Homo sapiens: one gene and its partner. The protein of the gene in region 2 interacts with the protein of the main gene of each other region in a biochemical or structural test. Each region holds a gene or a part of one and is shown on either strand. Other genes may lie near its edges.

Region 1 (7,461 bases), on a different chromosome or scaffold from region 2:
TGATAATTTGTATTTAGACACACACGCATTTATGGATTCCTTCCAAATTTTACATTTTTTAGTCTTCTTTTTTGATTAAACTTATTATTCCTTCTTCAAGAGGAGGTATCTGTAATGCTTGGCTCAACATTGCAAGGACAGCTCCTCCCTCATCCACATTTACTTCCGAAGTGTCTCCACAACATGCAATCGTGTTGCCCACCCAAGGCATCATTCGTGGGTCAGAAAATGTCGCTGTGAGAGTTGCGTGTGCTTCAGTGTTTTTCCCTTTGTTTTCATACTGCACTTTGAAAAGGATTCAATGACATCTAATGACCTTAATAAGAAATTTTATTCTTATGGGGGCCCTTGACTTAGGGATAATTTCTCTTTTATATGTTTTTGATATGGCAGGCTAATGTATCATTTTGTTCTTTTATTCCACAAACGCAGCAAATTCTAAGCCTAGGCCTGAGCAACTCAGTCTTTCTCAATCACATACAAACTGTGAATGTTGCTATGACTTACTGTAATTTATTTTTGTATATGCTATATTGATTTATGAATGGTATTTACGCATATACTTCATGACATAAAGCCAGTAGAGAACAAATAAGCATGGATACAGTAAGTATAAATATAAATTTCCATATGATTTATTGTTGTTCCTTGTACATAAGAAACAGTAATATACAACTTACACTGCTTTAGAATGTAAAATGGATAAAAATGTGTACAAAAAAAAGCACATTCCTAGAAAAAGGTATTGGCAAATAGTAAAAATGGGAGGTCAAAAGCAAAAAAAAAAAAAAAAAAAAACAAAACAAAAAAAAGAAAAAACCAACAATTCTTCAATTCAGTGTGCAAACATTATATAAAAATAGAAATACTAACTCTACAGGCAGTATTTCCTGATAAATTATTTAAATAGCATATCTACACAATCTGAGATATCTATTCCAATGGCAATGAGAAAATAATTTATAAAAATAAAGCAATGGTATACCAGATGATAGAAAAAAAACATAACTTTCAGAAATTGTATTTAACATTTCAATGCTATTTCCTTATTGGGAATACTTCTCTGCAGAGTTTTTATGCTATGTACAACACTGACTTTTTAGGTACTACAGTAGCTTTAAGTTTGTTAGACACTTAAACTCTTTCCGCTTGATCCAAAAATTCTTTACTCAGTCACACAACAAATGAGGTAATATTTGTATGTAAGTTTCACCTTTTGTCATTTTTTTCTCTTTTGGAAAAATGAAAGAAAAAAGTGTATATGCTTTCCTTCTCCCTGGAAATATGCACAAGGGATGGGGTAAAACAGTATTGAAGACCTCATGGCTTTCTTTGCAATTTAAAACATTTGCAAATGGATAACCAACTAATTCCACTTGAAAAGATAAAACAGAGAAAAAAAGAATCCCATAACATCCACTCTGAGCACAAGGGGCAGAGCAGCTTATTAGACTGATTTTCCTTGTGCTGTTCTTGCAAGAGATTTGCTGATAAATGTCAACTACTTGCTCTCAAACACTTTCCGTATGAAGCCTAAATTTCCAGGCAGAACAGAGTTAATAAATAATCTGTATTTACAATCTTACAGTCACGAAGACTCTCAACAAAGATGACATGGATAGTCTTTACGCTTCTTCCTGTTCCATGAATAATCCTTCAGCCAGATCTTCCAGAATAAGTAAAAAATAAATATTTTACATCGTAAAGCATTTAAAAAAAATCTACATTCCAAAAGAGAGAATTAGAAAACTCCATGATAATTCAGGAAAAAAGAGAAAAGGAATGTTTTAGTTAGGTTGATAATAATTTTGTGCCATTGTAACCATAAAAATATAAGCACGGCTGCCCCTCCTTTGGGAGGCAGCTGGTGCTCACTGAGATGGTAGGTTTTCCTATTTTCCTGCTACATCTGCACAAGCTACATCTAGAATGAAGCCACCAATTTCAATGTGACCAGGCAATGGCAGCCAGCACTGCCTTACACTGGTTTGATTCTGATTCCCTAATTCTGGCCACTGCAGGTGATGAGTAAGGGTGGGGATCAGGGAGGAAGTCCAGAAGCCAGTCTTTGTCTCCCTTTCCTGCTTCTATTTAAGTGCCTATTTACATGGGTTAATCAGCTAACGCCAGTCAGCATCATGAAATCCAGCAATAGTCTTTCAATCCCCTGAAAATGACTTAGTACCGAACATGTAACAGTTCCTCCATATTTTCTTCATACAATCGTCTCGGGTATGCGCCCTCCCCTTAGTGCTTTGGCCTCTGCTCCCCGTGTTCCTGAAGGAGGATGTCAGGGTGGTTTTGTTTGCTAATTCTAGTGAGTCCTCCCTTCTCTGACATGCCTGAAAATGCTTTTGAGTCCACTGCTCAGAGATGGCCTCACAATAGCACCCTGCTCTGTGACAAAGGCAGAGTGGAATGGGCACCTTCCCAACTGAAGCAAGTAGATGCTTTTTCAAAAGGAAACCAAAGCAATTGTTTATATGCTTGGAAGATGTCTTATTCATTGGAGGCTGAATGCTGAGTCTGTTTTTGAAAACTGCATTTTCTTGAGGCAGGTCGCACGTTCTAGGAGTCCACACTGATGCAAGCACAGAAAAGAAGGAAGCCAAGGAGAAGTGATCCTGGGGGTTTTCTCAAGCCCATAGTTCCAGAAGGTGCAATACCAGCATTGGTTTATGATCAGTCTTTCAATCAACAATTTGATGATTAGGGATCTGTTAAATAAACAAATATAAATAAATATACAAATGAAAACTAATTCATAAAAGCATAGACATCTTAGTTAATAAGTTAACCACATAGGAATAGCTCTACTTTTCTAATGACAAAAGCCTAATTTTAAGGTTGTTCAAGCACATTAGCATTTAATTTTATTAGCTGACATTGATGCTAGGAGACCGACACAGCGTGAACCTTCCAGAACATATATTATGCTTTCCAAAGGCTTTCAATGTTAACAGTTTAGGGAGTCTTATTTTAAAAATTTGGACTCAAAAATTACATTAATAATTTAGATTTTTTTGAGTAAAATCAACCATCTTTCTCTACTGTCATTGATCTTTTAGGTATCTGGCCTTGGCCCAGTAAATATATATTAAGCACTTATTTTGTGGTAGAGCCAGTGTTGGACTCAGCGAGCTTAAGTAATGACTAAGTAAAAAAGAATGAGGAAAAAAAATGCTAAGTTTAATAGTGAACATTAATTTAACATGCCAATATGAAAGCAACATTCCTCTCCCTTCTTTGTATACAGGGAAAAGTTGGGAATGCTAACTCGTGCTGTGATGGCATGCATAAAACAATAAGCAGTAAGATATATAAATATATAATTGTAAAGAACAGTATTATTAATGAAGTCCAAATTATATAGGAGCTTTTCTGCAGCTTACCTTTGCACTGTGTATGAGGAGCACAGAGATTGCTAAGCAAACTAATATTATAGCTAAGGACTCAGGAACTCATAAGCCACAGTGCCTAGGCATTATTCCATTTTTGTCCTTGTGTCCTCAAAAGCAAAATAGAAATAACCCTGTCTCCAAAACAGTCTTTACACTGGACTCCCCCATAACCGTCATCCTTGATATTAGTCTGAAATAGAGATGTCCAGTGTACATTCATGGTGATGTTGCTCTTACCTCTACATTCGTATTTCAGGTCAGAGAAGAACACCATTTCTTGAGAGAAGACAAACAACCCTAGTCTACCACCAGCATAGGTTTTATCATAGATGGGTCCTGAGTCAGCCATGATTTTCTTCCCTTCATACATCACCACTCTGCAGGGAAAAAAAATCTTGTTTAGTGACAATGCTATTTAATACTTTTTGTCTTTTTGTCCCTCAGTGTGACTGTAAGTGAAAGTGAATCAGTATGATCGTACCTAATGAAACCCGTCTTTGGCCTGTGGCTGAGACGCCATCTGTAGGCGGTGAAATCTTTCCAGCCTATGTGACGAGGGTCATGCCACAGGGTGCGCACCTGAAGGAAAAGGAAAAGGAAAGGTTGAAACACAGCTCCTTCAGGTAAAGATTTCTATTTCATTCCATCAGAAACAATGCTTGAAAGGTACTGAGCTGATCTAAGTTAGAGGGCTGCAATGGGGAATTTTTCCAAGTCCTCTCATATTTGTTGTGTGCCACTGAGCACACATATAAAGCAGACAGAGAGGAGGGAAGGAGGTTTTTTTGTTTGAAAAGGCTGAAGGCACCTTAGGATTTGCAGGGCAATTCTTGGTCAAGCTCCCTTTTCAACACTATTATGTTTTTACAAAGCAGAGTTCAATGCTGCAGCTGGTGATGCTGGGAACTTTCTAAGACTCCCTGGTCAGAGTCTTGGTCAAAGCACAGCATCCCCAGTGCTAGTCAGGCACCCATAAGCTCTCTCTCTGTTCCAGGGCTTTGCTTCTTACCTGGCCAGGGGTGTTTCCTGTGTGCCACAGGGCGTTCCGCAGGTGCTCGCCAGGCCCTGTGGTGGAGTTTACAACTTTCACAGAAAGGCCCGAGTATCCCTGAGCCCTCGTGGGGTTGGTGTCCCAGTAGGACTGGGTGACTTGCTTCCACATCACAACATAAAAGCGGCTGCTGGACTGGTAGCCAAAGACAAATCCAGCATAGTCATCGTCCCTTTCGGTGTTGATGAAGAAGGTGCCACTGAAGTCCACAGCATTAAACTCATCATAACCTGGAAGAAGAGCCCAGAGCCAGGTTAAAACCTGCAGCCTTCAGAAGGTTCTCCATCATGTTCCTAGACATCCTCAGCACCCACAGGGATAGGTACAACTGCCAGGTTTTATATTTGTTTTTCCCCATGTATGCATCAGTCTCTTAGGATCTAAGAACTCGCTACTCACCTACAGCGAGTCCAGGATCACAGTTGACAGTCTGGACGAGTTCTTTACCCTGATGGCGTACAACCCAGTTAGGGTCATTTTGGGATGTCCCTTTGGGGTCCAGAGGAATCATCTGGAATCGGCGGAAATCGGTCTCACTGATGTCAACATTCTCAGGACAGATGTCATCGATGTCTGGCACACTGTCATGGTCAAAATCATCTTTGCAGGCATCACCTCGACCATCGCCTGAGGTCAAAAAAGCAAGAGTTCAGCAAAATTCTAAAGTGCTATTATTATTACTGGTGTCAGAAATGTCACTATCTTGTCTAAGTTGGCATTTGGTCCCTTCATCCTGTCAAATGCTTTGAGCCTTGGTTTCATTTCTTCAATCTACACAGCTGTGCCAGCAGTCCCTGTCTTAGAAAGTGGCTCCCATGACTCACCGTCAGAGTCCTTCTGGTCGGGATTGGGCACGAGTCTGCAGTTGTCCTTGTCATCAGGAATGCCATCGTTGTCATCATCGTGGTCACAGGCATCTCCCTTGCCATCTTTGTCATGGTCAGCCTGGTTGGCATTGGGCACATAGGGACAGTTGTCCAGATTGTTCTGGTGGCCATCTTCATCAATATCCTGATTGTTGTCACAGGTATCTCCAATGCGGTCTGAGTCAGAGTCCAGCTGAAAGAGAGATGTAAATGGAGGGTAAATTGCAGTATAAACCATTCATGTTAAAGATAACTTATGCCCCCACCACAGGGAAAATTCTCCATTGTTTGATACAGCCAGTGGGGTGTCATGTCTATTTACACACTCCTGCAGAAAGATAGCAATAGTAGCAATTACATTTTAAAAGTTTTTTTCCTTTATCTTTGTTTTCGTATAAAAATCTGAGAAGGGATAATTTAAAAATGTTTTACATATAAAACTTTCTAAATAAGGTCAAATAGAGTGATATTTAATTACTAAAGATGAAATGAAATGTTAACTGTTTACATCTTAATGTTAAATGAAATTTTCTGGATACTTTATAACAGAGAATTTCCTTAGAAGGTTTCAGTTGTAAAACTGTTGACACGTCGACTTCTCTGAAAAGTCCTGAAAAGATGGAAACAGACCACTGGTCCCTGTGTTGTATACTGTCTGGGTAATGTTTATGACAGGGATAAATTACTTTGGTTTTGGATGTATCCTTAGTTTGATGATTTTCTTATAGCTAGATTACATCATTAGCCATGAAAATGGTTATTTTGCTTATGCACATTTATTTTTCCATCTCTTAGTATTACATATGATTAATATTATTGTACAGTTGTCAGTCACAGATGTCTGCTTTGTATAATTTGTCTTAACAATGGTAGACGATGCTGAGCAAGTCCAGTAGCCCTTCTTACAGAAGGTAAGACTGAAGTTACCAGATCTTCATGCTAAAGATCTGTGAGACTCTGTGCAAGGAGCTCACATCAGGCAAATTATTTACATGAACGTATTCCAGTTGGCTATGAGAAGCCAGGGAGCCACAGTAATGAAAGTGTTTGAACTTTGTTAAGCTCATTTTTCAAAGGCCATGAAAGGGATATTCCAACAGTTTACTGAAAGACTCTGAAAGGAGTCCATCCACCTACCTGATCCGGATTGTGTTCCAAGGGGCAATTGTCACACTGATCTCCAACCCCATCCATATCAGTGTCTCTCTGGTCCACATTGTAGACGTACTGGCAGTTGTCCCGTTCATTGAGGATACCTGAAGAGAACAAGGGACAAATAAGAGCTGGGCTCTCCAGCCTTGGATGTTTCCACCAAAGTGCATACTAATAGCCAGGACTAGACAGAAGTACGTTTGGAAAGCTGTGCATGTCCCTGTCTCCCGCGGGCCCTCTGATCAGGCAGCACCTTACCGTCTCCATCAATGTCTGCAGCACAGGCGTCTCCTTCCCCATTGTTGTCTGTGTCTGCCTGATCTGGGTTGTGGTTGTAGGGACAGTTGTCACAGCGGTCTCCCACATCATCTCTGTCATAGTCATACTGAGCTGGGTTGTAATGGAATGGACAGTTGTCCTGCAAAGAGAAGAAATGGAGCACTTAACAATGTTGTCCTTGAAAACAGCTCAAGCCTCAAACCATGTGCATAATATGTCTAAAACTGTGAAAATCAGCAATACTTTCTACCTAGTGGATAGGCTAATTGATCACTCAGTGTAAAACGATCACTACAAAAGTTAAAAGGACATAGTTAAAAAAATGGATCCCTGTGGGTTAGAAGTTAGTGAGATGTAGAATATAATCCCATCATCTCAGTTCATAGTGTGCCCAAAGTCAATTTTACTGTAATTTCGATGTGACATTTGAAATGAATCTAGGGAACAAAGTGGCATTTGTTTATGCATTATAATTTCTCAAGTACAGAGAAAAACAGTTCTGATGAAAAACAAAACCCTCATTTAAAAATTCTCTTGGCAACATCTACATCCTTAAACTACTGGAACACAATGAATAATTTCTAATTATCCTGTGTATTGATTTGGTATATTTTTTGCTATAGCCATGTAATTTCCTTGAATCCCAAAGTGTTTCAGGCTGTTGCTGAACTGAAAAGATGAAAAAGGGATAGAAAACTGTTTTTACCCTGTC
Region 2 (8,381 bases):
TATCCCCTAGGAAGAGGGTGTGGGAAAAAGAGAAGTACTATTATGCCTCTCTTGCAAATGAGAAAATTGAAGCAGAAACAATTACAGGCCTTGCCCAATACGAGGCAGTCACCACTGAGGCCAAAAATGAAACAAAATTGTCTTGGTTCCTTCCACGATATTCACTGGCCAAAATTAAAAGTCTCTCTTCAGTTACCTCTGGTCACTGCAGGGTTCAAGGACAATTATCATTTGAGACAACTTTTTGGATAGGAATTCTCTTACTAAGCTTCCCACACCTACTCATTTGAATTTCATCCCTTTTCCCTCTTCCCTTTTTGACATAGACAAGTCGGGGCATAGACAATCTTCAAATGAAAAAACAAAGAACTGGAAATATCAGAGTAGATTATATTATAACTACATTAGAATCAAGTTATGAATGAATTCTCCCATAGTAATACTAGTGGCAATAAAGATGACTGCCACATATTGATTACCTATTCTGTGCCTGATACTATGCTAAGTGCTTTATACTTGGTCCTACAATAATACACATGCAGAGACAAATCCAGGTTTTGTGGGTCCTGAAGCTTATACAATTTGAAGGGTCCTTCTTAAGAAAAAAGAAAATTTGGGATATAGAATGAGGTACAGGGCTTCGCAAGGGTCTGTGCAAGTGAGAGACCCAAAGCTTAACTTTGCGAGTTTCATGGTAAATGCATCACTGTGCCCAAGTTAGCTAACAGCTCATATCCCCAGTTTTACAAGCAATGAAATTGAGGACCAAGTAAGTTATTTGACGTAAGTCATAAAGCTTATACTGGCAAGGATAGGATTTGAACATATGGAATCTGACTCCAAATCTCACGTATTTTCTTTGTGTGGCTTCTAATAAAAATAAAGTTGCTATCACCTATTAAGCACTAACTATATCCCAGAAAGATCACACCTTAAGGTTATAAGAATTATTTGACAAAGCAGATGTGATCGTTAGTCCTTATTATCCCTATTTACAGATGGGGAAAACATGAATCAAGTAAGATTAAACAGCCCACGGTCACCGAGCTGGGACATAGTGGAAGCTAGGTTTCATGCCCAGGAGTGTAACATCCTCAATCTTTCCCACTGTCCCATGCTACCTACCACCCTACAGGTAATCCAGGAAAAAGCAGAATAGCGATGTGTGACTTACCTCTAATGACAACAGTATTTCCACACCTGCCCACTGAAACTAGCCCTGTCCTTTAGTTTCATACAATACACCGTGCAGTCCTCCTTAGCTGGGATTGAGCAGCTCTGAAAGTCCACTTCCCTGTACTATTACTTATCAGAACAGAGTCCATTCCTCATGGAGAAAAACACTTGGAAATATCAACACAAACTCAGGCCCCAGCCAAGTTGCCTTACAGCCACCCCCTCACCCAGAGAAATGGAGACACACAGAGAATCTAAGGGCTGGCTATATGGGAACCACGGGGAAGATCACTCATCCTATAGGGCTCCTTGAAACAGCCTTTCAAGGCCATATAAGAAAACTCACATATTTACTATAATTGGATTGCTTTACTCTAGTCACCCAAAGCAAGAGTTTACATCCTCAAACACAGCTCACCATGGATTTGGACATGGACAGGAGTGGAGAAAGGATTCAGTTTCTTTTTTCCTTGAACATGATTGCTCAAAGGAAACTGACCCTCGAGACGCTCAGACAGTGGGCCTTGTCTTCCCTTGGCAATGTGAACTTTAAAAATTACATTATGCTTTGCCATGGTGCTTTTTGAAAAACTGCCTTTAACTGCCAGATTTCAGGTACTCACTTAATTACTTTTGGAAACTCAGTTAAAGGAAGATATCCATTGCCACCTGGAATAAAATAGCTTTACTGACTGGAGAGTGCAGTGATTCAAAGTAGACTAGGCCTGGGCTTTTTTATCTGGCCGCAGCAAGTGCAGACCAGTGGGAGAAATGAAGCGTGCAGTTATGGATGCTAACAAGAAAGGCTGCTGCTCCAGTGATTATTTTTCTTTTTTAAGGAAAAAATGATCCCAGTAATTCTCTTTTGTTCCTCTTTTGACACAGCTTGGTGGATGTGGGGGAAAGGGCAGATGAAATGACCAGTGAAATCAAAAGATGAAGTCTTCTTAAAGGACTGGCTCTCCAGCCCAATCATCTAGAGGAAGAGACAAGTTCAGATTCTTGTAGGGTATCTAAATGCATCTGTGCCTGAAAATTATGGCCGTTTGAGAAAAACAAGAATTCATGGTGAGACAAAGCAACACAGACTGTTGGTACAAGATACAAAGCCACTAAGTCAGCGTTCAGCAAAGACTGATGGATGAATTGTCACCCAGCCTAAAGGACTGGCCCAGCTACCAACTGCCCCTGCCCAGCCCAAGAGGGCAAGAACACAATAGACCGCACACCCACGTCTCATCCCCAGGCGCACACCACTTCAAAGGCTACAGCAAGCAGACAACATAACCTGCCTCTTCTGCGGTGTCTTTCATTCAGTTCTGTTTCTTCATGAAGTGGGAAGGAAACAAGTTTGGGCCCACCTGAGATTGGGGTGTAGACGGAAGGAGTGGGGAGAGATGCAAACGACAGAACACAACCGAAGGCCTTTTTAAAAGTCAGGATCCATAGCCTTACTTATCACTGTAAAGGGAACAGAGTCGGCTCCATCCTTCCTCATCCTTCTTTAACCCTCGCCTACCAAGCCCTGGAAGACAGGGACGCAAGAAGAGCTCTAGCGCGGAGGGTCTGCCTGAGTGCTGGTCTTTCCCATACAAGATGTAGCAGCAGGGATGGGAGGGTGAGCTGGACGACTCCACAACACACACACAGCCCGCCCCGCCTCACCTTCTCGATACTCTGGTCTACAGCCTTCTGGAAGACCCGGGCCACCAGCAGCGTGACGCTGGTCACCAGCAGGAGCAGGGACAACGTCCCCGCCGTGTAGAAGCAGCATCGGCCCATTCTGTGCGCCGCTCACGGGCCGGGCCGGGCCGCACCCGCCAGGGATCCAACTGCAAGGAGGGAGGAGCCGCCGCAGAGGCGTCGAAGACCCGGGACCCTTCGGCGCCACGCCCACGCCCTCCCGGCGCACGGTTCGTGCGCGCAGCTCTGGGCTCCGCGGCCTGGCGAGCGCGGCCCCGGGTGCACCGGGCGGATGGGGCCGCGGAGGGACGGGCCCGGACTCGGTTTCGGTTTCCTTCGCCGGGCAGCCGTGGCGCCCGCCTAGCGCAGCTCGGGAGAGTGCAGGGAGCGCGCAGGGACGTGACGTTCGCGGGCCGGGCTCGCCGCAACCCCGCGAGGCAACCGCCGGCGACTGCGCGGGGAGGCGGGCGGGGGCGGAGGCCGCAGTCATGTGCCCTGCGGCGGCGGCAGTGATTCGGCCCGCGCCCTCCCCGGCCGGTCCCCGGTGGCCCTGAGTGGCTGCGGCGCCTGAGCCAGGCCCGGCCTGGCCGCTCCCAGCGCCCTGCACCGCAGGCCCAGCGCTCGCCCCACCGAAATTGCCGAACCTGGTTCACACACTCATTTACTCATTCCGCAGATAGGTCTGAGGGCCTCCCATGGGCCACGCGCTGGGGATTCAAGGTGGCTGGGACATTCCCCTGCTCTAGAGGCGCTCGCAAGTTAGCGGGGACACCGTTACCGCAATTACAACACAATGTAGCAAGTGCTTCTACCAGGTGCCTGCTGAGATCATGCCAGCAAGCATGTTCTGCCTGGATGACCTAGGGCCCCACATTGAACTGGGGCCTGGGGGATGCATAAGTTTGTCACGTAAGGGGCATGTGCAAGAATGGAAGATGTGCAAAAAAGGGAGGAGGAGGCATTTCACGGAGAAGGAAACGGTGAGCAAAGGCATTGGGGGTGAAAGAGCAAAACCTGTAGGAAGCAAGAAGGAAGTTCCTTTTGACTGTAGGCTCAGGTGTTCAGGGGGTGGAGTCGGAGGTGTTGAGGCCCCAAGAGGTCAGACTTTGAAGGGCTCTTGGTATCCTGTTAAAGATGTGGAAGTTGGGAAGGAGCTTAAAGCAGGCATCGCTGGTGTTCTTGCCTGCTTTGCTCACTGTGGTGTCCCAGACACCCAGGACCAAGACCTGCACACAGCCAGGACTCAAGAAGTGTTCGTTAAATGAGTGTTTCTTCTACGCCAGCCCTTTACTAGTTTCTTTGCACAGTTCTACTCATTTAATACCCTTGGCAGTCCTATGAATAGGAGGTTGTGTTTGTCCCAGTCCTCCAGAAACAGTCCCAGATGGGGGTACTATGCAAGAGAGTTTTGAGGGAAAACAGGGAGCTGGACCTGGGATGCAGGTGTGATCCTTGTGAAGGAAAGAGGCAAGCAAGGAAGGAAGGTTGGGTGGAAGGAAGCATTTGATATATATACAGTCCATGTATAAAAAGTTCAGCAAGGCCATTGGGGTGGGGAATCCTTTAGCCAAATGGGCTTGTCCCAGAAGTCTGGCATCTCCCAGAAAGAGGCCCGCCTTAGTATCCCTGCTGTGCTCAGTCATGAGCTGGGAGCAGCCTTAGGAAGCTGGCCTTTGCAGCAACCTAGGGATAAATATCAGGGTATGGATTTCAGCAGAGCTCAGCAGTTGAGGCGGAGCCATTGGTCAGTTATGCTATCTACACTGCAAGATCCAAGAAGTACATTTTCTTGGCAACTATAGTGTATTATCCTCATTTTACACTCAAGAACACTGGGGCTCTGAGTTAAGTAACCTAACAAGCTCAACTGGTTGCTGAGTGGTGGATCCTGCTTGAACCAGGATGTAGGGCTGGCTGTTGGCTTCCAAAACCCTCACTTTTTCTACTCTGCGCATTGCTGCATCCCGATCTGTCACTAATGAGAATCTGAGGACAGCAAATCAGTTAGGAGGCTTTGTTGAGGACTTGGTGAGATAGCATGATGGTTTAAAAATGGTGGCAAATTATTTGTTACTCCTTTCGTTGAGAGGTGGGGTCTATACTTTCTCGCTTTGAATTTGGGCAGGTTTTAGCAATTTGTTAAACCAATAGAATACAGTGGAAATGACCATATCCTGGAACTTCTGAAGCTAGATCATAAATGCCTTGCAACTTCTGCTGGGGCCTTTGCAAATTCTTGCTCTTGGAGCCTCAAGTCACCCCTAAGTTCAGCTACCCGGAGACTGCTGCAGAGAACATGGGAAAGACTGTGGGGAGAAGCCCTGAGTCTGTAGGAAGAGAAATGTCCCACCAGTCCCCAGCTGTCCCTAGCCTTTTGAGTCACAGGCCCTAGACATTACAGAGCAGAGGTGAGTGGTCCCTGCTGAGCCCTGCTCAAAATGCAAAATAAAGGATTGTTGTTGTTTAAGCCACTGAGTGTTGGTGTGGTAGGTTACTCAGTAGATAACTGGAGCAGATGGTAAGGGCAGAACTGAGGCTGGGACATTTTGTAGCTACCAAAGCTCTTCAAGCAGCAGCCCCAGAGGACCAGTCCTGTGTTCAAATAGAACCTGGTGGGGTCCTGAATGATTCAACTGTCCCCAGCCTGATGGGTGGGTGGTCTCCAGTCCTCAGGTGTCCACAATCGGCAGCCTTTCTCTTCCCCTAATCCTGCCTCTTCTCTGCTGTTAAGTTTCAGTTAGCTACATTAACTCTGCTCTGTGCCCCAGTTTGCTTAAGGAGCAATGCTAGCCCACTAACCCTCACATGTCCCCTACCTAGGCATTGGTTGAAGTCCTCCTGTCATCTATATGTCCTCTCCTTCCCTAACTAGAAAAAAAAATTTGGTAACTTGCCTGCCTAGGTACTTTGGCACTCAGAAGTTCATGCTCACACTGAACTTCCACCCCCTACTCTCTGACTGCTACAATCAGATTTTCTGTTTGCGGGCTCCATTCTGGAGGGCAAACTCCATAGGTACCCACTCCTCCCATCCCTGGACCACCAATCCCAGGGTACTCTTCCTTTTCATTGTTCATTGAGGTCCCTTCTTCTCTCTTGTCTGGGCCACCAGGACAGTAACAGACTGTGGGGATGGAGAGATGGAGACAAATTTGATAAATGTATCTTAGTGTGGGAGAGTTTCTAAACAAGGGTTTACAGCTCAAGTTGCCCTCAGTTTACCTGCTCTCTGAGGATCTCACTCTGTTTCCACTATGTCAGGCGGTTAGTAAGCCACTTCCCCTTTAAAACTCTGGACAAGCCGAATGAAAATCTCTTTCTTGGTTCTTCTTAACACAGCTGACCAGGCTAGCATTTTTAAATGTGTTAACATAAGACAGAACAAAAAGGACCTAATTACAGAAAATATAAACAGCTTTTAAGAAAATAATGTATGTTCCCAAAATAGCAGTCTGTGATCCCACAGTAATCTCTGTCTTATCACCGAGGCTGGCATAACTTTTTAGCAGCTGGCCTGGCTGTCTTTCTGTTCAGTTCCATCTTCTCTACCCACAGCTATGTTCAGAAGCTTTTGACACAAAGCCCCAAAATCCAGATTTAAGTTTCTCAATGCCCTTTGGGACTTCCTCCTCATTTCTGATCTATAGGACATGTCTGCACCGCTAATTGGCATTGTTAGTTTATTGCCACAGGATCATCTCACCCTATGAGAGACTTTGCCCTCTCATCCAGGGAGTAGCCCCTGCTTGCCAGCCACTAATAACCCTGAACACACTCTGGAGGGGCAGACAGCTTGGGAAGGGGTTACTGCTCCCAGAGTTTAGATGAGGAGGCTGATGCCAGGGCAGGGAGACAATCAGGACTCTTCCTGGTGACTTCTCTGCTATGGTTTGGATTTGTGTTCCCTCCAAATCTCATGTTGAAATTTGATCCCCAGTGTTGGAGGTGGGGCCTAATGGGAGGTGTTTGGGTCCTGAGGAGAGATTGTTCATGAATAGATTAATGCCTCCCTCAGGCATGAGTGAGTTGTCAGAGAGCGGGTTGTTGAAAAGAGCTGGCACCTCCTCCTTCTCTCTCTAGCTTCCTCTCTGCCCATGTGCCTCACACAGGTGTGCTCCCTTTCTGCCTTCCCAGGAGTGGAAGCAGCCTGAGGCCCTCATCCAATGCAGATGTCTGTGCCGTGCGTCTTGTCCAGCCTGCAGAACCATGAGCCAAATAAACCTCTTTTCACTACCCAATCTCAGGTATTGTTATAGCAACACAAACAGACAAGGGCGGAAAATGAGGAGACTGATGCTGTGGCAAGGAGATACGGTGATCTCTCTATACCTAAAATCAGAAGACTTTATCTGAGAAGAACAAGTACACTTAATGAATGATTGCTGGTGCCTGTTGAAATTATGCAATCATTCGGGACTTAGAAAAAGAGCTTTCTTCACAGACTCTAAGGGCTATCGAGGGGAAGCAAGAGGGCTCTTTGGGCTCTACCTTAAATTTAGAATGTTGATACTATACTCAAATGAGTTTAATGATGTAGTCATTGTATACTTTTATGTTCAAAGTGTTAATGTGTTAAATATAAACATTTAAAATACACCACAGGCCGGGCCAGGTGGCTCATGCCTGTAATCCCAGCATTTTGGGAAGCCAAGGCAGGAGAATCACTTGATCCCAGGAGTTTGAATGGAAATGGCCCTAGGCCTTGCCTACTTTGGGACAGGTCAGGCTCCAAGATACTTCTAAAAGTCTTGGCTTTCTTCTTATTGAAGGTGATCTATAAAATGTACCATCACACCCTAGTGATTTGACATATGTTATTCCTAAATGTTTGTGGGGCATCCTAAATCCTGAGCAATACAGCCTCCATAAGAAAAAATTACTCTCTCCTCCCTCCTCCCCTACCCATCATTCCAAAGTTCTTACATTACAGAACTGCTTTATGCAGATAGGCTTACATATCCCAGAGGAGAGCTCATATACCATTTATATTATATCACATGCACCTGTGCCAGGCCACAGGGACTCTCTGTGAAGTTACCCATGTCCCTGTCTACCGCCTCCTCCGATCAAGAAGACCTCATGGCTTCCTCATTATCATCTTTGCACCCCCAACTAGGGGAATCTTTTCCAGTTTGTTTTGGTTTGGTTTGGTTTTTATTTTGTTTGGGGTTATGGGAAAATGAGAATTCCCCTCTTCAAATTCTTATTTTCCTTTTTGTTCCCCTAATAATGCAGACTTATTGAAACACGGAACTAGGAGGAGATATCCTATTCACCTTTTTCTCTTCCCTTTCCTGAAAACACAAGCGTAGTGTTGTCTAACTAATAGAATGTGTGGTTGGAGGGCGAGGAGTCAGGAGATCAAAGAGGAGAAAAATATAGTGGGCAAAAAGGGTGAATATGTCAGCAATATTATCTGCTACTTGTACATAGTACTTGTACAAGCACTATGCTAGACAGTGGGCTTGCATTACTTCATTTACTCCTTACAATGCCCTATGATGTAGACATTCTATTTTAAG

What was found. Proteins that work in one complex are often made in the same cells at the same time.
Region 1: the proteins of SCARB2 (region 2) and THBS1 form a complex in vitro, tested with the Homo sapiens proteins (one study listed by BioGRID).

The regions. Positions count from the first base shown.
Region 1 is NC_000015.10:39,590,618-39,598,078, reverse strand, and holds part of THBS1 (thrombospondin-1 precursor), read right to left. Parts: coding exon 7,456-7,461; intron 6,889-7,455; coding exon 6,729-6,888; intron 6,575-6,728; coding exon 6,456-6,574; intron 5,512-6,455; coding exon 5,277-5,511; intron 5,080-5,276; coding exon 4,852-5,079; intron 4,683-4,851; coding exon 4,411-4,682; intron 3,981-4,410; coding exon 3,883-3,980; intron 3,779-3,882; coding exon 3,639-3,778; intron 2,718-3,638; coding exon 2,710-2,717; 3' UTR 1-2,709. UniProt on the Homo sapiens protein: Adhesive glycoprotein that mediates cell-to-cell and cell-to-matrix interactions.
Region 2 is NC_000004.12:76,210,586-76,218,966, forward strand, and holds the start of SCARB2 (lysosome membrane protein 2), read right to left. Parts: upstream 3,240-8,381; 5' UTR 2,959-3,239; coding exon 2,842-2,958; intron 1-2,841.